Regions from separate parts of the Homo sapiens genome. Here all the other regions are linked to region 1. The links come from fine-mapping of genetic effects on gene expression. A gene starts in region 1. Each other region holds a variant in brackets. All regions are shown on one strand. Distances are between the middles of the regions. Region 1 holds the start of BET1L (Bet1 golgi vesicular membrane trafficking protein like). Region 2 has its middle 6.7 kb from the start of SCGB1C1. Region 3 overlaps SIRT3 (sirtuin 3). Region 4 overlaps LINC01001 (long intergenic non-protein coding RNA 1001). Region 5 holds the start of SIRT3 (sirtuin 3).

Region 1 (5,101 bases):
CCAGAAGGGGCCTCTACTTCCCTCAGAAGCCTTTCCTGAGGTCCCAGCCCAGAACTGGCATCTCCTTGGCCTTGTCCCAACAGGCTGGGAGGTCCTGTCCTCTCCATGTCTGACACCCAGAAACCTGAAGGTACCCAGTAGGAAGCAGGTCCAGGAAATGTTGGAGCTGAGTTGAGACCCATCCATGGGTTAAGGTCAGTGCTCACCTCGTCCACCTCCCCCTTGATGGAGTCCAGGGTGATGTTGAAGAGCACTTTGAGGATCTCCATGGCCCGCTCAGTCTCTTGGGAAGGAAGGAGCGTGGGTGGGGGGTTCCCTTCAGGAGTCACCCCCAGCGTCAGCTCCAGTGTGTCAGTTAGCAGGCGCACTCCTTTCAGCTCCTGAAACAGCTGCTGGCGCACATCGGTGCGGAGTGCCGTTAGCAGGAAGAGGAGCCGCAAGTCAAAGAACTGGACATCGTGGGGGAAGCTCCTCTCACGGTACAGCCCCACACGCTCTGTGAGCTTCACCACTAGGCGGGCCTCTGCTGCCAGCATCTGTGCCACAGGGCTGCTGAGCACGAGGTTGCACAGGCACTTGAGGGACTCCAGTACAACATCCATGTCTGCGGACTCTGGGACGGACCCCTCAGAGACAGAGATGTCAGCATAGCAGGCTAGTGCCTGCAGGCTCTGGCGGCTGGTGAACGGGTCCAGGCAGTTGCGGTCCCGGGACAGGATTCGGACACTCTGCAGCCAGATGACACGGTGGGAGGGTGGCAAGCCCTGTTCCAGGACGGAGACCAGCAGCTCCGCCAGTCTCTGTGGGCAGGGAGAAGAGCGGCTCCACCAGGCCCTTCTTCCTGGGGCCACCCGTCCCTGCCCCTTTACCCCTTGGGCCAGCACCCACCTTCCGGTCCTCCTGTTGGGCATCATCAAACGTGAAGCTCTGGGAGTGCTGCAGAGAGAACTAGTGAATTCAAATCCACAGAGGGGTAGGATCCGCGTCCGCTGATGCGGGCGGCCTATTGGCCTCTAACTCAGGCAGCAGCCACTGCTCAGAACGGATGGCAGGGTCGGCACTCGCCCCCATCCCTACACGCCTGCCACCCAACGGGTGCACCCCCACTCTCCCCGCAACACTGCATCCCAGACCTGCCCCCCGCACCCCGCCGCGTCCCCTACGCTTGCTGACACAGCCTCTGCCTCACCCACGCCCTCCCTGCTACCCGCGCACGACCCTGCCCCACCCCCTCCGTGCCCGCCCCCCGGCCTCAGGCGGCCGCTTACCTCCTGGTTGTATGACCGCAGAGCTTCCATAATCACATCCTCCTCACCCGTCTCCACGGCTTCTGCAACCGCCCGGGGCTCCATGGCGCGCCGGGGAAGGCGGGACGGGCCCTTCCTCAGCCGTTCCGGGCCGCAGTTCGCCGGCCCCGCCCTGGCCCAGAAAGCCCCGCGCCAGCGCGCGGGGGAGGCCGGGACGGGGCGCGGCGTCTGGTGGCGCTTTAACGGGGCGCAGCGTCTGGTGGCGCTTTAAGGGGGCGCGGCCTGAGGCAGAACTGGCGGCTCGGAGGTTTTAAGACCCGAGTCGAGGGGCTGAGTCGCTCTGAACCGAACTGACCCCTCTCCTTGTGACCCGCGCTTCTTGGGCCAGAAGTTCCAACAGGAAACGATCTCAGCCCCCACCGTGCCCTGCCACACACACAGTGACGCCCCTCGAGCTCCACAGAACCGATGGGATGTAGAGGGGAAAGCCGAAGTGGAAAGGAATTTTCAGTCCTGGGCCATTGGGTTCGTTAGGCGTTTGCTGGGGAATGCAGGCGAACGGGATTCCCAGGTCCCTGCCTTTGTGGAGCTTATGTTCCAGAGGGGAAGGGGGACAAGGAAAAACAAAAGGACACGAGGCGGTCACAGGGCTGTGCTTCAAAAGAAGCAAAAGGCGACTGCTGGGCTGCAACGGGCTGTGAGGAAGTGCTGTTTTTGCTGACACCGGACGGTGGGAAGTGAGCCGGGAAAAGACTGGAGGAGCCACTCCAGGCAGAAGGAGCAGCACTTGCAAAGGTGGAGGGGCCGAGAGAAAGGGGAGCAACCCAGTCTGGCCTGGACTCAGTTCCCTCTTGAAAAGCAAAGATCCTGCGTGTCCGTTTCAGTGGCCGTCATGAGGATTCAGTGACGCACAGGAAGCGCGATCCACTCGCTCTTCTAACAAGTGCCCGGGAGCAAAGGCGTCTACGGCCCCCAGTCCCCGCGCCGCCTCCCAGTCTCTCTCCCGGCTTCACTTTCCTGTAGTGCGTTCTGTACGGCTGTATTCGACGCGGCGCGCACTCGCAGGCACGAGCGAGGCGCCGATCTCCACTTGACAGAGGAGGCACCCCTGCCCCCACCACACCCAGTGCTCCTCGCGGGCTTCTGCCCGAGGGGTCTGCTCCTTCCTCATGACCCGCCTGTGAATCCTTCCTAACCGTTAGGACCTAACCCACAGAAGCGTCTTTCCACCACCATCGTCTAGGCACTGAGCAAGCAAACGGCCCCGCCCCGCCCCACGTTCACAGGAACACCAAACGTCACATCCGCGGTGCTGCTGTAATCCCAGCACCTTGGGAGCCCGGCAGGCGGGGGCTGCAGTGAGCTGAGATCGCGCCACTGTCTGCGCGACAGTGCTGAAAATAAGCCACAGATATGCCCATCGCTTCCGCGCCCGGCAGTTCCCCACCCTCGGCCCTAAGCCGGAAGTCAGCGAGCCCGAAGCGGAAGGGGCTGGGCTATCTAGGGGCGTGGTCGGTGCGGAGGCGGGGCCATCGCTAGCTGGGGGCGGGGCCGGAAGCTCTTTCCCCGCGACTGCGCCACGTCTGAGGCGGCTGTGGCCGCGTCGGTGTCCGCGTCGAGGAGCCGGGGCAGGGCACGATGGCGGACTGGGCTCGGGGTGAGCGCGGGAGAGCGGAGCCGTTGGGGGCAGGGCCGGGCCGAAACCGACGCCGCTGCCTGTAGAGCCGCGTGCGCCTGCCTCTGGCCCAGCTGGGGTGACCTCGGCCGAGAGGACCCTGTCAGGGGGGCGGATTCGGATCCTTCCGGGTCCGAGCAGGGCCGGGTTTCGGCCGGCACTGCCGTTAGGACCGAAGGCGCGCGTGGCGGCCCAGCAGCTCCAGCGAGGGGTCGCGCAGCAGCGGGGTCTCCCCACTCCCCGCCGCCCCCTGTGAGATCGTTCTGCATGGGTTCGGGGTGAGCGGGAGTCGGCATTCGACAGGTCCCGAGGCCAGGCCCTAGGAGTAGAGGCTGTGCTCCGCTGGTGTCCAAGCAGGACTCTTACTTTGGCCTCGGTGGCCCCATTTCCCCTCCTGGAGCCCGTGTTCTTGTCTGCAAAGTGGGATATTGATGCCTGTCTCTGTGAGGTGTTATGATGATTAAAGGAATTTATAAATATGAAGTGGCTGGAAGGACGCTGGCATCCCTTCCTGACACTGAAGCTAGGGAGGAGGTGGTTCTCACGCACCTGATGTGACAGAACTTCCTTATCCCCTGGCCCAGCCTGTCACAGGCCAGGCCTCTGCGAGCACTCTGCCCTGGGTGTTGCAGGAAGCCCCATGCGGGATGCAGACCAAGGATCCCGCTCCTGGTCGACCTCAGCTCCCGTCTCGGGGAAATTGGGAACTTTGCTCAGCCATTTTCTGTGCGGTAAAGGGCCTTCCCAATGTTCTGTCCTGGTTCCTTGCCACCTCTTCAGGACCTAGCTCAAAGGTCGTCTCTGCAGGAGCCTTTCTGCTGCCTTGCTGGGTACTTTTCCCAAGTCTTTTCTATGCTCTTAGCAGAGTTTACTCTTTTTCTATAAGAATGGGCTCCACATACACAGATGGTGACCTCCCTGGATGCAAGTGTCACATCATACTAGCACCCCAGGGCTGGGTCCAGTTTTTGCTACACAGTCTCAGAAGGTGCTGGTTGGACCGAACCCATTGTGGGTGCTTGCCCATCCCCACCTTGATGTGTACACAGGACATGTGTTCACATGACAGGCCCTTACACACATCGTCCTTTATGCAGCCTGTCTCATGTGCAAGATTCACCTGCTGGAACCTTGGTTAGGGCCCCCTAGATTTCTGACTCACCCAGATGTGGTTGGAGTGAGAGGGGTCAGGGGCCGTGCTCACCGATGGATGCAACCCTTCAGCCCCTCTCTTTTCTCAGCTCAGAGCCCGGGCGCTGTGGAAGAGATTCTAGACCGGGAGAACAAGCGAATGGCTGACAGCCTGGCCTCCAAAGTCACCAGGCTCAAATCGGTCAGTGGTGGTCTGTCCTCTTACCTCCACCTGGTGCCTTTGGGGAATGGGGATCAGAGGGAAGGCAGAGGGCCCAGAGGAGTTTCAGGCAGTTTTCCATCCTCATCCAATTCGTGGCTGTGCTCACCTGCATGAGGCCCCAGCTGACACCTGGACCTTTCTGTCTGCTGCAGCCCCACTGTGTCTGGCAGAGTTGTTGGCAGGGTTTATCTGGTCTGGGGAGGGTGAGTGCTGTATTATGTGTCTGCTCTGGCCCAACCCTGCCCTCTCTGTCTGCTGAACAGCTCGCCCTGGACATCGATAGGGATGCAGAGGATCAGAACCGGTACCTGGATGGCATGGTAAGGGCCCACGGTGTGCGTGTATCAGTGCCCTGCCCTAGCACTACCTGCTGCAGAGCCTGCAGTGTCTCCTTCAGCACTGGTGCGGGTGGGTGGTCAAATCACCACTTCTGTGTGATCTTGCTGGGATTCCTCCCTTAGGACTCGGATTTCACAAGCATGACCAGCCTGCTTACAGGGAGCGTGAAGCGCTTTTCCACAATGGCAAGGTCCGGACAAGACAACCGGAAGCTTCTATGTGGCATGGCCGTGGGTCTAATTGTGGCCTTCTTCATCCTCTCCTACTTCTTGTCCAGGGCAAGGACGTGAGCCAGTGGGAGCTGGTGTCTGTGGGTGCCAAGGGCAGCCAGGGTCTTCCCTGCCTGGTGTTTTGGGCTCCAGAGGACTTACCTACAAAATACTCCTTTGCAATGATAATTGTGGGTCAGGAATCTTCTTCCTGTGTGGCAGGAGGCTGCGGCTGCCTGTGACCTGATGAGCTCATGTTGGCTGGTCCCATGTGTGA
Region 2 (5,101 bases), 21 kb after region 1:
TGACATAGCTCCCAGCTTGACTTTTCCCTTGGCTTAGTGATTTGGGGGTCCTGAGATTTATTTTCCTTTCATGGTATCAGAACAGAGAAAAGGTAATGCGTTGAGCCATGAGCTTATGACAAGATGGCTAGGAAGGAATTTTTCAGCTCCATTTTTATGTCATGGGACCACCATCATATGTATGCAATGCACGAGTGTAAAATCACATTTAGTTAAGTCAGCTTACACTAAGCTATGGACCCAGATGGTCCTGGGGCCTTTTTCCACTGGGAGATCTTTAAGGACCTTTCTTAGCTTTTCTATGCTAATTGGTATATTCATAGTTGCCTTATTTCAGGGCCCATTTTGTTAATGTGTATTTTTACTAGGAAATCACCCATTTTTTCTAGGTTTCCAGTTTGATGCAATTATTTGACTTTTAATTTCTCCTCTGTTTTTAGTTTTGTACATAATTTTCCTATCTACTTTTGCACTCTTTTTTCCATCAACAATATTTTTAAAATATACTTTTTAGCTTTTTTTGAAGAATTGTTATGTTTGACAATTTTTTATGACCTAATCATGACCGTAAATGATTTTTAATTAATTTCAGCTTAATGTCTTTTGTAGGGCACAACTGTTAAAATACAGAATTACAACAAATGTGGGTTTGCAGATCTTAATTGGCTTTTTTTTGTGGTTCTAGAATCAGGCAGCAGTCCAGACCAAAAATGGTTCAGAATGATCTGCCACACAACATGTGCGGGTTATATTTATAGCCAGAGGAAAAAAGTGACATACAGAAAACAGAAGTGAGGTATAGAGGTGGCTGGATTGGTTACAGACCTGGTTACAGCCCGGATTTGCCTTCTTGGAACTTGTTTTGAACAGCTGGCTGCCGGCCATTGACTGACACTCGGCTGATGTGATTGGCTGAACCGCCGCTATTTGTTACCATGATACATTCCCAAGTCAGATTTTCAGTTTGTTTCTATACTAAATTAGGTTGCGATTCTTCTTGTTCTTCTTCTTTTTTCTTTTTTGAGGCGGAGTCTCGCTCTGTCGCCCAGGCTGGAGTGCAGTGGCGCGATCTCAGCTCACAGCAAGCTCCGCCTCCCAGGTTCACGCCATTCTCCTGTCCCGGCCTCCCGAGTAGCTGGGACTGCAGGCTGCCGCCACCAAGCCCGGCTAATTTTTTTGTATTTTTTTTTTTTAGTAGAGACTGGGTTTCACCTTGTAAGCCATGATGGTCTCGATTTCCTGACCTCATGAGCCACCCGTCTCGGCCTCCCAAAGTGCTGGGATTACAGGCGTGAGCCACGGCGCCCGGCCGCGACTCTTTACAAGGACTCCTCGGGAGGCTTCCAGAGCCCAAATGTTGTTTGATGTAAGAATTCCTCCCTTTTGGTCAGCCTCTCAATTTTGAGATATTGATCAAAACTTTGGGCATTGGTGTCACTCTTTGTTGTCGTTGTAAATTGAGTTATTAGGACTTATTTGCTTTCAGTGTGGCATTTTCAAGTTTTATTTGGTCTCAGTGCCCTCTGGGCAATAGCAGAACACTGTGTTGTGTAAGGCGGAAATAGAGCAATAGAAAATAACAACTGATTTGTTAATATCAGATTACTTCAAGTTACTTGTTTTGGTAAGAATTAAAGCAGAGGGGACTTCTTTATGCTGACTCAGGTAGACTGGAATCTCTTCAGGGAAAAAGGGAGCTCTTTTGGGATCTATCTACTTCCTTAGAGTTTCAGCTTCGTTGTGTGTCATTCAGCGTGAGTGTCTCCATTCTGATTTTGCCTGCTCAGTGTGGCCTAGTGCGGGAGTGGTGACCGAAACAATGACCTCCCGTAGTTTGTTCCACAGTTCTCCCCTTTTGGTTGGGTTCCTGCCTAGGTGAGGGTGTGACTAAAACCTTAGGGCATTAGCGGTATTCTCAGTAACTATCATTTTAGGTTTCCGGTCTTAGGGCATTAGCACTATTCTCAGTAACTATCATTTTAGGGTTCCGGTCTTAGGGCATTAGCACTATTCTCAGTGACTATCATTTTAGGGTTCCGGTCTTAGGACATTAGCGGTATTCTCAGTAACTATCATTTTAGGGTTCCGGTCTTAGGGCATTAGCGGTATTCTCAGTAACTATCATTTTAGGGTTCCGGTCTTAGGGCATTAGCGGTATTCTCAGTAACTATCATTTTAGGGTTCCGGTCTTAGGGCATTAGCACTATTCTCAGTAACTATCATTTTAGGGTTCCGGTCTTAGGGCATTAGCGGTATTCTCAGTAACTATCATTTTAGGGTTCCGGTCTTAGGGCATTAGCGGTATTCTCAGTAACTATCATTTTAGGGTTCCAGTCTTAGGGCATTAGCAGTATTCTCAGTGACTATCATTTTAGGGTTCCGGTCTTAGGGCATTAGCACTATTCTCAGTAACTATCATTTTAGGGTTCTGGTCTTAGGGCATTAGCAGTATTCTCAGTGACTATCATTTTAGGTTTCCGGTCTTACGGCATTAGCGGTATTCTCAGTAACTATCATTTTAGGGTTCCGGTGTTAGGGCATTAGCACTATTCTCAGTAACTATCATTTTAGGGTTCCGGTCTTAGGGCATTAGCAGTATTCTCAGTAACTACCATTTTAGGGTTCCGGTCTTAGGGCATTAGCACTATTCTCAGTAACTATCATTTTAGGGTTCCGGTCTTAGGGCATTAGCAGTATTCTCAGTAACTATCATTTTAGGTTTCCGGTCTCAACACATCATTTAAGAAGTCAGTAAAGCTTTCTTCTACTGTGACAGCATATTTAATACTGAGAAAGAAAAGAAAATTTTTATCTTGCGAATGTGAGCTTCCTCTAAATTATCAGGTCCAGAGAGGC[G/A]TGGGAATGAGGCAGCAGTCACGTCCCATTTCCCTCTTAGCTAAGTAATCATATCTTGAAGCTGCTTGCTATGTAGACTAGACTGACTGTCATCAGCTATAGATTAACCTAAGAGTGTCTTTGAATATTTTTTCCAGTGGCAAATATTTGCTTCTGTTGTATCGTAGCTGAAAGGAATGCTGGGAAACAAAATAAAGACAAGCATTCATTAGAATAAGTGATCCAGTCACAATGAATCAATTTGAACTTTTTTTTTTTTCACAAAGTCATACTTTGAAAACTTCCAGCCGTAAATTGAAATAGTCTCCAAAATGTGAATTTTTTTCCCTGGTTCTAAGATGACCAGCTTTCTTAGAGAGTGAACTACACCATAAGAAAAATGATATGACCATGTTTACACATATATGTTATCTTAACATAAAACATGTAAAAGGGGCATTTCTTTGAAAGTATATATTAGTCTGTATAATTTACTTTGCAGTATCATGAATGCTCTTATTTTTAAAAGTAGGAGTAGTTACTGTCAATTACTAATTTTTAGTACAAATAATTTAGCAGATATCTGAAAAAATTACAATTTTTAAATAGAGGTTTTATTTTAAATTAGTTTTAGATTCATACAGAAATTGGGAAGAAAATGCAGATTTCCCATGTAGACGCAACCTAGTTTCCCCTCTTTTTAACATATCAACATGTATCAGATAGGTTTAACATCTTTTTTTTTTTTTTTTTCCAGACCAGGTTTTTTTTTTTTTCAACCAGGCTGGAGTGCAGTGGCGTGATCTCGGCTCACTGCAACCTCCGCCTCCCAGGTTCAAGCGATTCTCCTGCCTCAGCCTCCTGAGTAGCTGGTATTACAGGCGCCTGCCATCATGCCCGGCTAATTTTTGTATTTTTAGTAGAGATGAGGTTTCACCACGTTGGCCAGGCTGGTCTCGAACTCCTGATCTCAGGTGATCTGCCCGCCTCAGCCTCCCAAAGTGCTGGGATTACAGGCATGAGCCACCACTCCTGACCAACATCTTACATCATTTCTTGTCATACTTAATGACTGGATATTACTATATTATTAAATAAGCTCACATCTTATTTGGTTTCCCTTAGTTCTGCCTTTTTCTCTCCCAGGATCCTATCTAGGATCCCATAGGACATTTAGTCATCATGTCAGGCTCTTCTTGGCTGTGACAGTCTCTCAGACTTTACTTCTGAGGACCTGGAACAGTGTTAGGAGGATTGGTCAGGTATTGTGTAGAATGTCCTCCATTGTGGTTTACTTGGGGTTTTTCTCATAATCAGCCTGGGTTTAGGGGTTTGGGGGAAGCAGAGCAGATGTGTAGTGTGTCCACAAAAAGAGTCAAAGACTGTAAAATATTTGAAGAGATGTATTCTGAGCCAAATATGAGTGACCATGGCCCTTGACACAGCCCTCAGGAGACCCTGAGAACATGTGCCCAAAGTCGTTGGGGTGCAGGTTGGTTCTATACATTTTAGGGAGATAGGAGACATCAATCAAGTGTATTTAAGATATATATTGGTTCGGTCCAGAAAGGTGGGACAACCCAATGGATTAGGGTTGGGGGGTGGGGCTTCCAGGTTATAGGTACATTTAAAATTTTTCTGATTGGCAGTTTGTTGAAAGACTTACTATCAATAGAAAGGAGTGTCTGGGTTATGATAAGGGGTTATGGAGGCCAAGGTTTTATCATGGAGATGAAGCTTCCAGGTAGCAGGCTTCAGAGAGAATAGATTGTAAATGTTTCTTATCAGATTTAAGGTTGTGTTGATGTTAAATGCTGATTGGCTTTTCCTGAATTCCAAAAGGGAGGAGGGCATAATGAGGCATGTCTGACCACCTCTTTCCCATCATAGCCTGAACCAGTCTTCCAGGTTAACTTTGGTGTCCCCTGGTGGAGAGGTGGTTGTGGGAAAGATCTTTGAATTTTATTTTTGGTTTGCAAGTGCTAGTCTAGTCACTTCATGCTCTCAAGATGTGTTATCACCATTAATGTTAACTTTTATCACTTGGTTGAGGCAGTGTTTTCAGGTTTTTCACTGTGAAGTTACTTTTTTCCCATGTCTATATTGTATGTATGCTTTTGGAGGAAGTCATCATGCAGAGCTCATACTTAAAGGAGTGGGGAGTTAGCCCCACCTCCTTGATGGCTGTCTATATCAGGTATTTGGAATTCTTCTGTGTAAGAGATTTCTATTCAGTCCATTTGCATATCTGTTTAATCATTTATTT
Region 3 (5,101 bases), 21 kb before region 1:
ATTTTTTTTTTTTTTTTTGAGACAGAATCTCGCTCTCTTACCCAAACTGGAGTGCGGTGGCACGACCTCAGCTCACTGCAACTTCCACCTCCCGGGTTCAAGCGATTCTCCTGTCTCAGCCTCCCCGAGTAGCTGGCACTACAGGTGCCTGCCACCACATCTGGCTAATTTTTGTATTTTTAGTAGAGGTACGGTTTCACCATGATGGCCAGGCCGGTCTTGAACTCCTAGCCTCAAATGATCTGCCCACCTCGGCCTCCCAAAGTGCTGGGATTACAGGTGTGGGCCACTGTGCCCGGCTGGATATAATTTTATTTGAGCTTTTATCAAATGGTTTTTCGTACTGAGTTTTGACAGGCTTTGTTTTAACCGTGATTTGGCTCCAGCTAGGTGCCCCTTTGCTCCCCTGCCTTATTCTGGTTGATGGCGCATGTAGGTGATACGGGCATGAAAACCAGGCTTGAGGACATCACAACCCCAAGGGGCTGTGCCTCCTTCCAGGAGTCCTGCCAAGCCCAGAAGTTGTGCTCTTGGCCTTGCGTGCTCATCTCGGAGGCGGCAGCAACACTTCGCTTTGGCTTGAATTTCAGTGTCGGGCATCCCTGCCTCAAAGCTGGTTGAAGCTCATGGAACCTTTGCCTCTGCCACCTGCACAGTCTGCCAAAGACCCTTCCCAGGGGAGGACATTCGGGTGAGTTATCCTGCTGTTGGTTGTCCTTCTGCAGTTTGCTGTTGGGGTGATCTGGAAAAGTGGTATTTTATAAGCATTGTCTCGAAAGGACAGTTGAACAATAATAGTGTGAAACATTTTATTTGTAAATTAGAAAATCAATACATGCTTGTAAAAAAATTTAAGACAATATAGAAATATGTAGGGAAAATGAATCTCCCTTCAGCCAATTCCAGCTGCCCACTTTTTTTTTTTTTTTTTGAGATTGAGTCTCACTCTGTCGCCCAGGCTGGAGTGCAGTGGGCGATCTCGGCTCACTGCAACCTCCGTCTCCCGGATTCAAGGAATTCTTCTGCCTCAGCCTCCTAAGTAGCTGGGATTACAGGCGTGAGCCACCACGCCCGGCAATCAGATGGCCTTTTGTGCCGAGCTTATTTCCTGAAAATGTTTCTCGCTCCTTCGCCTTGTAGCTTGTGTTAGTATTTCATCCTGTTTCATGGCTAAATGTTCCACTGATGTATGCACCACAGTTGGTTTGTTTGTACATGGATGGGTGTTTGGGTTGTCCCACCTTTCTGCTCTTGTGTATAGTTCTGCTGTGGAGCATATGCAAGTATTCGTTTGAGAGTCCTTGTTTTTTATTCTTTTGAGTATGATACCTACAAGTATTGCTGGGTAACTCCACGTTTAGCTATATTTATTTATTTATTTTTTGAGACACAGTCTTACACTGTCACCCAGGCTGGAGTGCAATGGCGCGATTTCGGCTCAATACAACCTCTGCCTCCCGGGTTCAAGCGATTCTCCTGCCTCAGCCTCCTGAGAAGCTGGGATTACAGGTGCCTGCCACCATGCCCAGCTAATGTTTTTTGTATTTCTAGTAGAGATGGGGTTTCACCATGTTGGCCAGGCTGCTCTTGCATTCCTGACCTCAGGTGGTTCACCCGCCTCGGCCTCCCAAAGTGCTAAGATTACAGGCGTGAGCCACCATGCCCTGCCCATGTTTAACTTTTTTGTTTGTTTGTTTTGAGACGGAGTCTAGCTCTTATCACCAGGCTGGAGTGCAGTGGCGCAATCTCGGCTCACTGTACCATCCGCCTCCTGGGTTCAAGCGATTCTCCTGCCTCAGCTTCCTGAGTAGCTGGGACTACAGGCACACACCACCACGCCCGGCTAATTTTTGTATTTAGTAGAGTAGTTTCACCATGTTGGCCAGGATGTCTCGATCTCTTGACCTCGTGATCCGCCTGCCTCTTTCTCCCAAAGTGTGGGATTACAGGCGAGAGCCACTGCGCCCGGCCCGTTTTAACTTTTTGAGGAACGAATATACTGTTATCTGCAGAAGCTGGACCATTTTACATTCCACCAACAGTGGGCAAGGGTTTCATCTTTTCCACATCCCAACACTTACTTTCCATTTTTTAATTACAGCTATCCCAGTGGGTGGGAGGTGGTAACCCACTGTAGCACTGATTGGCATTTTCCTAATGATTCATGATATCAAACATCTTTCCATGTGCTTTTTGGCCATTTGTATATCTTTGGAGATTGAAGTCCTTTGCGCATTGTTTAATTGTGTTGTCTTTTTTATTGTTAAGAGAGTCCTTTATATATTCTGGAAGCTAGATCCTTATCAGAGACATGATTTGCAAATATTTTCTGTCATTCTGTAGGTTGTCTTTTTTACTTTGTTGATGTCTTTTGATGCATAGAAGTTTTGATTTTGATGAAATCTAGTTTGTCTATTTATTTTCTCACTCTTTTGGAATCATATCTGAGAAATGGTATTGTTTTACTCCTGTTTTCTTATAAGAGTTTTATAGTTTAAAGCTTTTACATTTAGTTCTTTGATCCATTTTGAGTTAATTTTTGTGTGCGCTGTAAGGTAGGGATCCAGCTTCATTTTCTTTTATGTGGATATGTAATTGTTCCAGCACCATTTGTTTAAAAAAACTGTG[G/T]TCTTGGCATTGTTGTTGAAAATCAGTTGGCCATAGGTGTATGGGTTATTTCTAGAGTCTCAATTCTATTCCATTGTTATCTGTATATCCTTGTGCCTGCACTATAATGTTTTGGTTACTGTAGCTTTGTAGTAAGTTTTGAAATTAGGAAGTGTGAGTCCAGCACATAGTAGAAACTTGATATATACGTATTATTGTTTTGGTCAACTCATTCATTGAATGACCAATTTATTCAACAAATAGTTTAGTCTCCTCAGTGCCAGGCCCTTTGCTGGGTTCTGTGGATGTGAATAGAAATTAAAATAAGGTGGAGTCATCCAACAGTTACAACTGGGTGCCATACGAATTTTACTATAAATATGTACTGGACACTACACTGACTCAGCTGTAGGAACAGAGTAGGCTGGGAAGCACCTTTGAGATGAGGCCGTCTGGATGTAAGAGTCTGTTTCTGGCAGCAGAGACCTGGAGTGTGGGAGGCCTGCTTGCTCTGTTAGGGTTTGAACTGTATCCTGACGATCATGGGAGGCATTGGAGGATTTTTAGGCAGGAAAATGATGTGAAGGGATTTGCATTTAAAAGAGATTATTTGGGACTGGGCACAGTGGCTCACGCCTGTAATTCCAGCACTTTGGGAGGCCTAGACAGGCGGGTCACCTGAGGTGGGAAGCTTGAGAGCAGCCTGCCAAAATGGTGAAATCCCATCTCTACTAAAAATACAAAAATTAGCCAGGTGTGGTGGTGCACCTGTAATCCCAGCTACTCAGGAGGCTGAGGCAGAAGAATTGCTTGAACCTGGGAGGGGAGGTTGCTGTGAGCTGAGATCGCACCACTGCACTCCAGCCTGGGTGACAGAGTGAGACTCCATCTCAAAACAAAATAAATAAATAAATAAGAGAATAAAATAGATAATTTGGGCAACAGGTTGATGTTAATTCCCCACCTTTGTTCTTCTCCTTCAGTACTGTGTTGGCTGGTCTGAATCTTTTGGCTTTTCATATAAATTTCTGAAACTGTTGCTATCTGTTCTCTGCCTGTTTTATTTTTGTTGTTGTTGTTTGGATTTTTTGTTTTTTTGAGATAGAGTCTTGCTCTGTTGCCCAGGCTGGAGTGCAGTGGTATGATCTCAGCTCATTGCAACCTCCCCCTCTCAGGTTCAAGCGATTCTCTTGCCTCATCCTCCTGAGTAGCTGGGATTGCAGGCATGCGCCACCATGCCCAGCTAATTTTTGTATTTTTAGTAGAGATGGGGTTTCACTATGTTGGTGAGGCTGGTGTCGAACTCCTGACCTCATGATCCACCCGCCTCGGCCTCCCAAAGTGCTGGGATGACAGGCATGAGCCACCGTGTCTGGCCTCTCTGCCTGTTTTTTAAGACTTTTGTCTTTGGAGTTTTGCGGTTTCTCCACTGTGGTTTTCCATATGAATTTTCTTTTATTTCTTCTGCTTAAAATTTGTAGGCCAGTTGGTCATGGTGGCTCACGCCCGTAATCCCAGTACTTTGGGAGGCCGGGTGGGTGGATCGCCTGAGGTCAGGAGTTTGAGACCAGCCTGACCAACATGGAGAAACCCCATATCTACTAAAAATACAAAATTAGCCGGGCGTGATGGTGCATGCCTATAATCTCAGATACTCGGGAGGCTGAGGCAGGCGAATTGCTTGAACCAGGGAGGCGGAGGTTGCGGTGAGCTGAGATTAGGCCATTGCACTCCAGCCTGGGAAACAAGAGCGAAACTCCATCTCAAAAAAAAAAAAATAATAATAATAATTGTAGGCCTTCCTTAAGAAAAATAAAATAAAATTCTAGGCTGGGCGCGGTGGCTCCTGCCTGTAATCCCAGTACTTTGGGAAGCTGAGGCGGGTGGATCACCTGAGTTAGGAGTTTGAGACCAGCCTGGCCAACATGGTGAAACCCCGTCTCTACTAAAAATACAAAGATGAGCCATTTGTGGTGGCACCCATCTGTAATCCCAGCTACTCGGGAGGCTGAGGCAGGAGAATTGCTGGAACCCAGGAGGCAGAAGTTGTAGTGAACCGAGATCATGCCACTGCACTCCAGCCTGGGTGACAGAGCGAGATGCCATCTCAAAAAAATAAAATATAAAATAAAATTCTAAGCCCTGCAACCAACTGAATGGAGCCCTCCCCTTGGTCAAGGGAACCCCAGAGAAACCTTGGAAGCTTGAGTTCCTGGCCGTAGCAGGAGAGGAGGTCAGACGCGCCTCACTGTACCCCTCCCTCCCCAGCCACCATTAGGCTTCTTCACTAAGGGCTAAACAGAAACCAGCCCTTTTCAAAGACTCTACACTGCTAATGTGGATTACTGGTTTATCTTCCCAGATACAGATTAAAGACAAGATGAGATTAATGGTTCCTTCACCCTTCCCTGAGAGGTCTGCTTAGTTCTCTTCCTCTGTTTCCTTCTATCTTAGGTAAAATGTACATTTACTGGGCACTTACTGAAGTCTCACA
Region 4 (5,101 bases), 75 kb after region 1:
GCCTCTCAAGTATGTTATGAAGGTTATATGTTAGGAAGGGTCCCAGGAGGTAGACCCACACAGATGGGATTTGGGCATAGGTTTGGTTTCCCAGGGGGCAGTGCTGAGCTCTTTGCCAGTGGGAAATGGGATGCTGGTGATTTCCAGTAGGTGACCTCACAGTGACTCAAGCTACCACTTACTGTTGATTGTGACGAAATGCCAGCTGAGGCACATGCCTTGGGAGCTAAGTGGTTGCTGCCCTTGACCACTGTGAAGACTGGTGTGGGAAGGGTCGTTTTGGATGCACTTGAGCAGGGGTCCCCAACCCCTGAGCCATGGAGCCGCAAGGAGCCACACAGCAGGAGGTGAGTGGTGTCGAGTGAGGGAGTGAGGGAAGCTTCGTCTGTATTTACAGCCACTCCCCTTTGCTCACATTCCCGCCTGAGCTCCACCTTCTCAGATGAGCAGCAGCATTAGATGCTCATAGGAGAACGCACCCTGTTGTGAACCGTGCATGTGAGGGATCTAGGTTGCGCTGTCCTTATGAGAGTCTAATACCTATTGATCTGTCACTTTCTCCCATCACGCTCAGGTGGGAACATCCAGTTGCAGGAAAACAAGCTTAACACGCCCACTGATTCTACATTATGGTGAGTTCTATAATTATTTTATTATATATCACAGTGTAATAATGGAAATAAAGTGCCTAATAAATGCAAATGTGCTTACATCTTTTGGCCCAGCTCCTACCTCCCGGCAGCCTCTCCAGGCCCAGAACTTTCTCCAGTCAGCCTCTACAGACCAAGCTCATGACTCACAATGGCCTATTTAGGCCCATACCCTACGTCACGGCAGCCTCCGCAGATGAGGCTACTGCCTCACAACAGCCTCCACAGGCACAGCTCCATCGTTACAATGGCCTCTTTAGACCCAGCTCCTGCCTCCCAGCCTTCTCTCCAGGCCCTGAACATTCTCAGTAAGTTCAGGTAGCTGGGACTGTAGGTATACATGATGATACTTGGCTAATTTTTAAATTGTTTTGTAGACACGGGGTCTCACTTTGTTGGCCAGGCTGGTGTCAAACTAATGGCCTCAAGTGACCCTTCCACCCCTGCCTCCCATCCTCGAGGCATGTGCCACCACAAGGAGCACTTGTTCAATTTTCTAAAAAAAAAATTTCTAAAGTAAGGCTGTGGGATGATGGCAGGAAGATAAAAGAAAAACAGAAGAATAAGTTAAAATGACTTATTCACACATATTCTTTTGACAGCAAGAAGAACTTTTAGTATGTACATTCCTTACAAACAAACAAAAGGCAGATAAACAATGTTGTATAGGAACTTCAACACACACTGTACAATATTCCCACTTTGCTGACATAAGTTATGGAAATTTCATGGTTTACTTGAGTGTCCCTACCAGTATTTTGCTTCTCTGATGATTTTTATCAACTTCCTCATCTGTTAACTTCTCTCCAAGGTATGTCATGTCACGACATACTGCCGCTGCACGAACATGGCCAGTGTCTTCCTATTCAACATGTAGAATGCTTTCCTAATTTCTCTTTTTACTCTCTGTCTTTGTGTTCTGCATTTTCCTTACTTTTATTGTCAGAAACTCCAGAAAGTCAATCGTACTAATTTATCACGATTTGCTTTATTAATTTATACTTTGCTTATATGGAATTTTGCCCAGCAGACCTCATCACAGTTTCTAACCTGTTTTATTTTTTATTTTTTATTTTTTTTTGTTCTGAGACAGGGTCTCCCTCTGTTGTCCAAGGCTGGAGTGTAGTAGTGCTATCGCAGCTGACTGCAGCCTCAACCTTCCAGGCTGAAGCGATCCTCCCACCTCAACCTCCCACGTGGCTGAGACTACAGGTGCTTGCCACTATGCCCAACTAATATTTGGAATTTTCGTATACGTGGATTCCAGAGGGGTGACAGCGAAACGTGAGTAAGCATGGATTTTGGTATATGCAGAGATGGGGGGCTGGAACTAATTCTGTATACTGAGGGACGACGACTGTATATGTTTTTACAATTACGCTGTAGGATACATACTGTTGCATAGCCTTGAAAATAATAATTTTTAATTGAGTGGAATAAGAATAATATTGATAAAAGTAGCAGCTGGCCAG[G/C]TGTGGTGGCTCACACTGGTAATCGCAACACTTTGGGAGGCTGAGGCAGGAGGATGGCTCGAGGCCAAGAGTTTGCGATAGGCCTTGGAAACAAAGGGGGAGTCACCATCCCTACAGAAAAATACATGAATTAGCCTAGTGTGGTGGCATGTTCCTGTAGTCCCAGCTACTTGGGAGGCTGAGGTGGGAGGATCACTTGAGCCCAGGGAGGCTGAGACTGCAGTGAGTCATGATCAGGCCTCTGCACTCCAGCCTGGGTGACAGAGTGAGACCCTGTCTCAAAACAACAAAAAAGTAGCAGCCAACATCAACTGACCTTTTGTACCAGGTGCCTATTGATACCATAGTTTAATTTCTTATAACTGTTTCTTATTTCACTTACCAACTCTGTCTTCAGTTACTCCCAGATTTTTACTGTGTGTGTACAGATGACCTTTTGTTTAGACTGAATTGTCTCCCCAGAAGTAAGATTACTGTGAGTCATGGTGAATGGACATTCTCCTTACCCTTGATGTAAATTGACAGGGTTTTGGGTGCCTCCCAGCTATAATCTTAGCACTTTGGGAGGCTAAGAGAGGAGGATTGCTTGAGGCCAAGAGTTGGAGGAGGCAGTATGGCAGTATGGTGAGACCCTGTCTCCATTATTTTAAAAAATTGACAGGCTTTACCCGGGAAGGCTTATACACAATTTAACCACCTCTCATAGTATAAGAAAGTGCCCATTTCACTGCACCTTTGCCAGCACAGGGTATTATAATTTAGTAAGTCATTTTTTGTTTGATTATTTTAAATAGACAAAAGACCTCATGTTACTTTACTTGTCACATTTCAACATCTTTCCTCAGCTTATTAGCTCTATTTCTTTTCTGTCTGTAAATGGTTGTTGTTGTTTTGTTCTTTGAGACAGGGTCTTGCTCTGTCACCAGGCTGGACTGTAGTGGCATAATCATGCCTCACTGCAGCCTTGACCTCCCAGGCTCAAACTTCCGCATTCCGAGTAGCTGGGACTGCAAGTGTGCACTACCACCACCAGCTAACTTTTTTCTTCTTTTGGATAGAGACAGGGTCTCACTCTGTTGTCCAGACCGGTCTCTAGCTCCTGGCCTTAAGCAATCCTCCTGCATTAGCTTCTCAAATTGCTGGAATTTCAGGCCTGAGCCACCATGCCTGGCCTGGGCTAGTCCTATATTCTCTAGAGTTCTCTTTACTTTGTGCTAGCCAATCTCTCATTATGCTGTTCACCTGTTATAATGAATAATTCTCTGTATTAAATTTTACCACTTTAAACTTTTGAGTGGTTTATGCTTCCTGATTGGACTCTGACTAATATGTTAGGAAGGGTCCCAGGAGATACACCCACACAGATGGGATTTGGGCATAGGTTTGGTTTCCCAGGGGGCAGCGCTGAGCTCTTTGCCAGTGGGAAATGGGATGCTGGTGATTTCCAGTAGGTGACCTCACAGTGACTCAAGCTACCACTTACTGTTGATTGTGACGAAATGCCAGCTGAGGCACATGCCTTGGGAGCTAAGTGGTTGCTGCCCTTGACCACTGTGAAGACTGGTGTGGGAAGGGTCGCTTTGGATGCACTTGAGCAGGGGTCCCCAACCCCTGAGCCATGGAGCCGCAAGGAGCCACACAGCAGGAGGTGAGCGGTGTCGAGTGAGGGAGTGAGGGAAGCTTCGTCTGTATTTACAGCCACTCCCCTTTGCTCACATTCCCGCCTGAGCTCCACCTTCTCAGATGAGCAGCAGCGTTAGATTCTCATAGGAGAACGCACCCTGTTGTGAACCGTGCATGTGAGGGATCAAGGTTGCGCCGTCCTTATGAGAATCTAATACCTATTGATCTGTTACTTTCTCCCATCACGCTCAGGTGGGACCATCCAGTTGCAGGAAAACAAGCTTAACACGCCCACTGATTCTACATTATGGTGAGTTCTATGATTATTTTATTATATATTACAGTGTAATAATGGAAATAAAGTGCCTAATAAATGCAAATGTGCTTACATCTTTTGGCCCAGCTCCTACCTCCCGGCAGCCTCTCCAGGCCCAGAACTTTCTCCAGTCAGCCTCTACAGACCAAGATCATGACTCACAATGGCCTATTTAGGCCCATACCCTACGTCACGGCAGCCTCCACAGATGAGGCTACTGCCTCACAACAGCCTCCACAGGCACAGCTCCATCGTTACAATGGCCTCTTTAGACCCAGCTCCTGCCTCCCAGCCTTCTCTCCAGGCCCTGAACTTTCTCAAGTCGACCTCACCAGGCCCAGGTCATGCTTCTTTGCAGCCTCTCCAGGCCCAGCTCCTGCATCTTGGTGGCCCCTCCAGGCCCAGCCTCTGCCTCCCGTCAGCCTCTACAGTCCCAACGTCTGCCTCACAGCAGATTCTTCACGCCCAGCATCTACCTCACTGTGGACCCCCCAAGCCAAGCTCCCAACCTTTCAGCAGCTTCTACACACCCAGCTCCTGCCACCCAGTGGCCTCTTTAGGCCAAGCTCATGCTTCACAAGGGCCTTTCCAGGCCCAACTTTTGTCTCATGGCAACCTTCCCTGGCCAGATTCCTGCCTGTCTCCCAGCAGCCTAGACAGGCCCAGGTCTTGCCTCACACTGGCCTCTCTACATCCAGCTTATGCCTCACGGTGGCCTCTCCACGCCCAACTCCTGTCCCAGGACGTCATCTCCGGGCCCAAAACTTACTCAAGTCAGACTCTCTAGTCCCAACTACTGCCTCCTGGTGGCCTATGAAGGCCCAAAATCTCCTCAAGTTGACCTGTCCAGGCCCAGCTCCTGCCTCCTGTCAGCGTCTACAGGCCCAACCTCTGCCTCATGGGGGCTTCTCCAGACCCACCTCTTCCTCTTGGCTGGGTCTACAGGCACAACTGCTGCCTCACAACAGCCTTTTTTGGCCCAGTTCCTGTCCAGCTCATGGCGGCCAATGTAGGCCCAAAACTTCCTCAAGTCAAACTCT
Region 5 (5,101 bases), 31 kb before region 1:
CAAGGCGGGTGGATCGCCTGAGGTTAGGAGTTTGAGACCAGCCTGGTCAACATGATGAAACCCTGTCTCTACTAAAAATACAAAAATTATCCAGGCGTGGTGGCGGGTGCCTGTAATCCCAGCTACTCTGGAGGCTGTGGCAGGAGAATCACTGGAACCCGGGAGGAGGAGGATGTAGTGAGCTGAGACTGTGCCATTGCACTCCAGCCTGGGTGATAAGAATGAAACTCCGTCTCAAAAAATAATAATAATAAATAAATAAAATGGCATTTTTATTACAAAAGACTATTTCAAAGATATCTTCCTTATTAGAAGGAAATGTTTGAACTTTCCTGACATGTATTAATCTAAAAAATTACCTTAAAAAAGAAGCCCACTAAGTCCAGAAAGTCAAAATTACTTCTGGTGACTATAAATTCAAAAATACTATCCATTTTACACTTATGCTAGCTGGATCCCAACAAATTTTAAAGGTTTATTCTGTCTATGGGAAAAGTAAACTCAGATCTGCCAACCTAAATAAACATCACCTTACCATGAGGTTGAGGAAATATTTTGTCATGTGTAGAAAAGTGATTTAAAGATAAGAAACCAAAGGACAGAGATAAACAATTATGAATCATCTATCGTGATGATTTAGAACCTTAGGGAACAAGTATTAAGACAGGTCTCAGGCCAGGCACAGTGGCTCCTGCCTATAATCCCAGCACTCTGGGAGGCCAAGGCAGGCAGATCACCTGAGGTCAGGAGTCTGAGACCAGCCTGGCCAACACTGGTGAAACCCCATCTCTACTAAGAAATACAAAAATCAGCTGGCTGTGGTGGTGGGCACCTGTAATCCCAGCTACTTGGGACGCTGAGGCAGAAGAATCGCTTGAACTCGGGAGGTGGAAGTTGCAGTGAGCCAAGATCGCACCATTGCACTCCAGCCCGGGCAACAAGAGCGAAACTCCGTCAAAAAAAAAAAAAAAAAAAAAAAAAAAGCAGGTCTCATTTATCATTTTCCCACATAATCCAGAAGACTGAATGTTCAGCAAAATCTCCAGGCTTACAGATGATTGTAAGTTCCTCTGAATAGTAAAATGTCAAATTGATGGCTATAAACCACAAGAAAATCTTACAAGCCCAGGTGGTGGGGTAGCAAGGTGGTAAGCTCTATTGCGAGCATATAAAAGTAATGTATTCAGGAGAAATGACTCAAAATGTAATTATAAGCTATCAGTTGCAATGCTGGTATGAATCTCTGATTCATTCAGAATCAGAGAAAGCCATCATAGAGTAAGATGTCAGGAAAAACTTCAAAGAGGAGGCTACCAGTGAGCAAATTCGTGGGGATGTGTCAGGGGATCTGGGGAAGGCTGGGAAAGAAGGTGCGTATTTGTCTACTGCTGAAAAAATTCTAAAAGTCCTCTATTACAGAGGCAGCATGACACTATACAGGACTCTCCCTCCAATCCACCTACCCTCAACCGAAGTACAAAAGGTGTTTTATTTTCCACACTACCCAGGACAGAAGTGTCTGGGCAAGCAAGCAGTGCGGCTTAAAGAAGGGGAGTGATGGAAGTTATCTAAGATTCCCACAGATAGTAATCTTCCTCATACCTTACTCCACCCTCTAACTGGGTTTGAACTTTGTTTCTAAAACTAGAGTACTAAAAAGAAGCCTATGAACTAAGATACTTAGGCATGTTGTAAGATAATACTTTATGCTAGAATTTCAAAAAAAGCCAGAATGTCAGTGTTTGAATCCTCTTCTGCCACTTATCAGCAGTGATCTATGGTAAGTTACTTAAAGTCTTATGTTTGCTTCTACATCAAAAAAGTGAGATAGTAGTATCTACTGACCAGCGTTGTCATGAAGGATATGTGAAGCGCTCAGACCAGTACCTGACGTAAAGTGACTGCTGAATATTGGAGCTTATTATTATTATTAGCATAAAGCCTATCTTATTTTCAAAAGTCCTTGAGCACATTCATATAATCTAATCTGGTATAGCAAATTATTTACCTTAATGAGACCATCTCCTTGGGCAAAGCACGGATCCTGCACAAAATCAAGCACCTGAAGTGTCAGCTGATGCCACAACCTGAAAAACATACAGCCCTTAAGACCTCTAACCTAATATCCAGTCACAGACACCTCCAGCCTTGATGATTCTATCAAGTCACAAATACAGGTTGGGTATCTCTAATCCAAAACTCCAAAACTCCAAAATTCAAAATGCTCCAAAATCCAAAACTTTTTGAGCACCAACATAGGGCTCAAAGGAAATGACCACTGGAGCATCTCAGATTTCAGATTTTTGATTTATGGAT[A/G]CTGAACGGGTAAGTATATATCGCAAATATTTCAAAATTTGAAAAAATACTAAATCCAAAAAAACTTTTGCCCCAATGCATTTCTTTCTTTCTTTTTTGAGACAGAGTCTGACTCTGTTGCCCAGGCTGTAGTGCAGTGGCGCCATCTCGGCTCACTGCAACCTCTGCCTCCCAGGATCAAGTGATTCTCCTGCCTCAGCCTCCCGAGTAGCAGGGATTACAGGCATGAGCCACTGCGCCCGGCCGCCCCAATGCATTTCTGATAAGGGATACTAAATCCATACTAACCAGTCTCTACGGTGTAGCAGAAAGAATGCTAAAGCAGATGTGATAAACCTGAGTTCTTTTCCTGGCTCTGCTATTGAATGGCTATGTCACTTTGAGATCACTTAACTTCTCTAAGACTCAGTTTTCCCAGGTATGAAATGGAGAACATTAATCTAGATTAACTCAAAGGGTTATTGTGAGGTTTCACTGGAAACGAGAACTTTGGAATCATACATATCTAACTTGAGATGCTGGCTCTTCTACCTATTAGCTGAGTATCTCAGGGAAGGCAATTAAAATGAGCTTCAGTTTCCTCCTCTGTGAAAAGGATGAATAAAGGATTAAATAAGCTAATATTTAAAACCTCAGGGACAGTGACATAGCGCTTCATCCAAAACCCAAAGGCTAATATTTAATAACGCAGATAAAATGCTTTGAAAATTACCAAGTGCTATCCAACACAAACCATTATTTGCCAAACATTAATTTGCTCTCAAAAACTGCTAATAGCAGAAGGCTGCTGAATGCTAAACATCATCAAAACATGTATGGAACATCTATGTGAAAGGTATTATATTAAATGCTAGGGTTAACAGGGAGGTTACTACAGGAGATGTATTTTCTATGGAATAGCTCCAGCCCAATGCCAGCAATTTATTCTACTCATATTAAAAGGAGGTTAGTGCTTAGCAAGAATTTAATTGCTCTGCAATTCATCCTGTTTCTAAACAAACCTAAACTTTAAGATCTTTCTAGGGGCAGAAAGCCCATGAGAAATACAATGGAAGGTAAAGACAATGGGACGGCGGAAGTGGTTGCACCCCGTGCAACCAGCTGCAGAATGAATAGGGAAAACAGCAAAGCTGTACTAGCCTCTGGTTTATCAACTCCAGACCATGAGAAAGATAACTGTAGATACAGTTACACTATGACAAGGCTAAGCACGAATCACCAACATGTTTCCCAAAGTGGGTGGTGGCCCTGAAAGTGTGTTTGCTTGTTAGATGGAATCAAGAGCTAAAATCAAAGGCTACTCCTGAACCGTTTTAGTAAGACCCGAGGTAGGAGTTCAGAAGCCTCAGTCTCAGTCCCCCGTTAAGGAAGCAGTGAATCTCAGACCGAAACATCCTGGCTACAGCTCTTGGCCCTCGTGGTCTGTCATCCCTCTTATTCCTCGACCCTGCCACTCAAGGTTCCTCAGCAAACCTTGCCGGCACAGCCGGTCGCTACACGTCCCCGTTTCCCCCCAACTTGGGTCTGGGCGCCCTCAGCCCATCAAGGGTCCGCTCCTCCGCCCGCCTGCCCCCTCCGTCTCCCTCTATCGCCGGGGCCCAGGGCCCGTCTGCTCGGCGCTCACTTCTTCGTGTAGAGCTCCTCCAGACGGTGCCACACAGCGGGCTGCCCGGGCCCGGAGTTCTGGCTCTGCTGTAGGAAGCCCGGTACGTCCTTCATGACAGCAGGAAGACCCCCGGCACAGAAGAACAACCGGGATGTCAGCACCGCGGGGATGGCTGCCGGAAATGCTCACTCACTTCCGGCGCCGAGCGGCGCGGGGCAGGCTGGGAGCGCCGTAGCAGGCCGGGGGCGGGCCCCGCTGGTTGCTCGGTTACAGCGCGTCTCTGCGCTCCGGACAAAACTCTCCGGCGTTTGCAGCCCACTTCCCGCGCACTTGGCTGTGCCATTGAGGCGTCAAAGAGTGTGGGCGCCTGTGGTCGAACCCGCTACGGACTAGCTTTGTGGTGTCAGCCTTTGTGACCCGGAATTGCTCCTGTCAAATGAGGATCTTCCCAGTAGTGTTTTGCGAGGATTAGGTGTAAATATAATGCCTGACCATAGTAAAAGCGCTCAGAAAGTATTAACTATCACCGCCATCCGGGTTGAAAAAGGTGTGAGCGCAGGGTACAGAAATGCTGGCTCCAGGTTTGACCTCCGGGGCGAGAGATGAGACACCAGACTAGGGAACTTCCTCTACTCGCCTCTACGTCTACCTGGGCGCGCCGGAGGCGTCGGCAAGGAGGCGGGGGCGGGGCGCGGAGGCGGGACCGGGGCGCCGGGGGCGGGGGCGGTAGGCGGAGGCGGGGCTGGGGCGCCGGGGGCGGGGGTGGGAGGCGGAGGCGGGGCCGGGGCGCCGGGGGCGGGGCGAGTCCGGAGGACTCCTTGGACTGCGCGGAACATGGCGTTCTGGGGTTGGCGCGCCGCGGCAGCCCTCCGGCTGTGGGGCCGGGTAGTTGAACGGGTCGAGGCCGGGGGAGGCGTGGGGCCGTTTCAGGCCTGCGGCTGTCGGCTGGTGCTTGGCGGCAGGGACGATGTGAGTGCGGGGCTGAGAGGCAGCCATGGGGCCCGCGGTGAGCCCTTGGACCCGGCGCGCCCCTTGCAGAGGCCTCCCAGACCCGAGGTGCCCAGGGCATTCCGGAGGCAGCCGAGGGCAGCAGCTCCCAGTTTCTTCTTTTCGAGGTATTTTGGGCAAGGACAAGCACTTCTTGCGTGTTCGTTGTCGACACCTCGCCCACTCTTTCTC

Evidence for each region.
Region 2: its variant is fine-mapped to the expression of BET1L in whole blood (TOPMed, PIP above 0.99).
Region 3: its variant is fine-mapped to the expression of BET1L in whole blood (INTERVAL, PIP above 0.99).
Region 4: its variant is fine-mapped to the expression of BET1L in esophagus mucosa (GTEx, PIP 0.97).
Region 5: its variant is fine-mapped to the expression of BET1L in whole blood (TOPMed, PIP above 0.99).

Annotation. Positions count from the first base shown.
Region 1 is chr11:205,106-210,206 of GRCh38, reverse strand. It overlaps BET1L (Bet1 golgi vesicular membrane trafficking protein like), which reads left to right and starts at 2,808. Exons shown (of 4, transcript NM_001098787.2): 1 at 2,808-2,904; 2 at 4,164-4,255; 3 at 4,540-4,596; 4 at 4,738-5,101. The coding sequence starts at 2,886. The coding sequence ends at 4,905. RIC8A (RIC8 guanine nucleotide exchange factor A) reads right to left here and starts at 2,499. Exons shown (of 10, transcript NM_001286134.2): 1 at 1,269-2,499; 2 at 889-936; 3 at 207-800. The coding sequence starts at 1,352. It overlaps MIR6743 (microRNA 6743), which reads right to left and starts at 871; the gene lies at 801-871. RefSeq lists enhancers at 631-1,218, 1,293-1,912, 1,888-2,057, 1,913-2,534, 3,081-3,582 and 1 more and silencers at 1,117-1,226, 1,297-1,586, 1,587-1,785, 2,847-2,966, 3,077-3,136.
Region 2 is chr11:183,836-188,936 of GRCh38, reverse strand. It overlaps a transcript of SCGB1C1 not described here. Among named protein-coding and RNA genes, the nearest start is that of SCGB1C1, 6.7 kb to the left of the region's middle. The variant G/A (reference allele first, on the strand shown) is at 2,857.
Region 3 is chr11:226,042-231,142 of GRCh38, reverse strand. It overlaps SIRT3 (sirtuin 3), which reads left to right. Exons shown (of 7, transcript NM_012239.6): 4 at 591-691. Among named protein-coding and RNA genes, the nearest start is that of SIRT3, 7.8 kb to the left of the region's middle. The variant G/T (reference allele first, on the strand shown) is at 2,629.
Region 4 is chr11:130,421-135,521 of GRCh38, reverse strand. LINC01001 (long intergenic non-protein coding RNA 1001) reads left to right here. Exons shown (of 7, transcript NR_146389.1): 3 at 575-632; 4 at 726-958; 5 at 1,744-1,934; 6 at 3,998-4,055; 7 at 4,149-5,101. Among named protein-coding and RNA genes, the nearest start is that of LINC01001, 6.1 kb to the left of the region's middle. The variant G/C (reference allele first, on the strand shown) is at 2,123.
Region 5 is chr11:235,984-241,084 of GRCh38, reverse strand. It overlaps SIRT3 (sirtuin 3), which reads left to right and starts at 4,743. Exons shown (of 7, transcript NM_012239.6): 1 at 4,743-5,037. The coding sequence starts at 4,757. PSMD13 (proteasome 26S subunit, non-ATPase 13) reads right to left here and starts at 4,109. Exons shown (of 13, transcript NM_002817.4): 1 at 3,941-4,109; 2 at 2,009-2,087. The coding sequence starts at 4,035. RefSeq lists enhancers at 3,858-4,097, 4,258-4,447 and a silencer at 4,598-4,677. The variant A/G (reference allele first, on the strand shown) is at 2,317.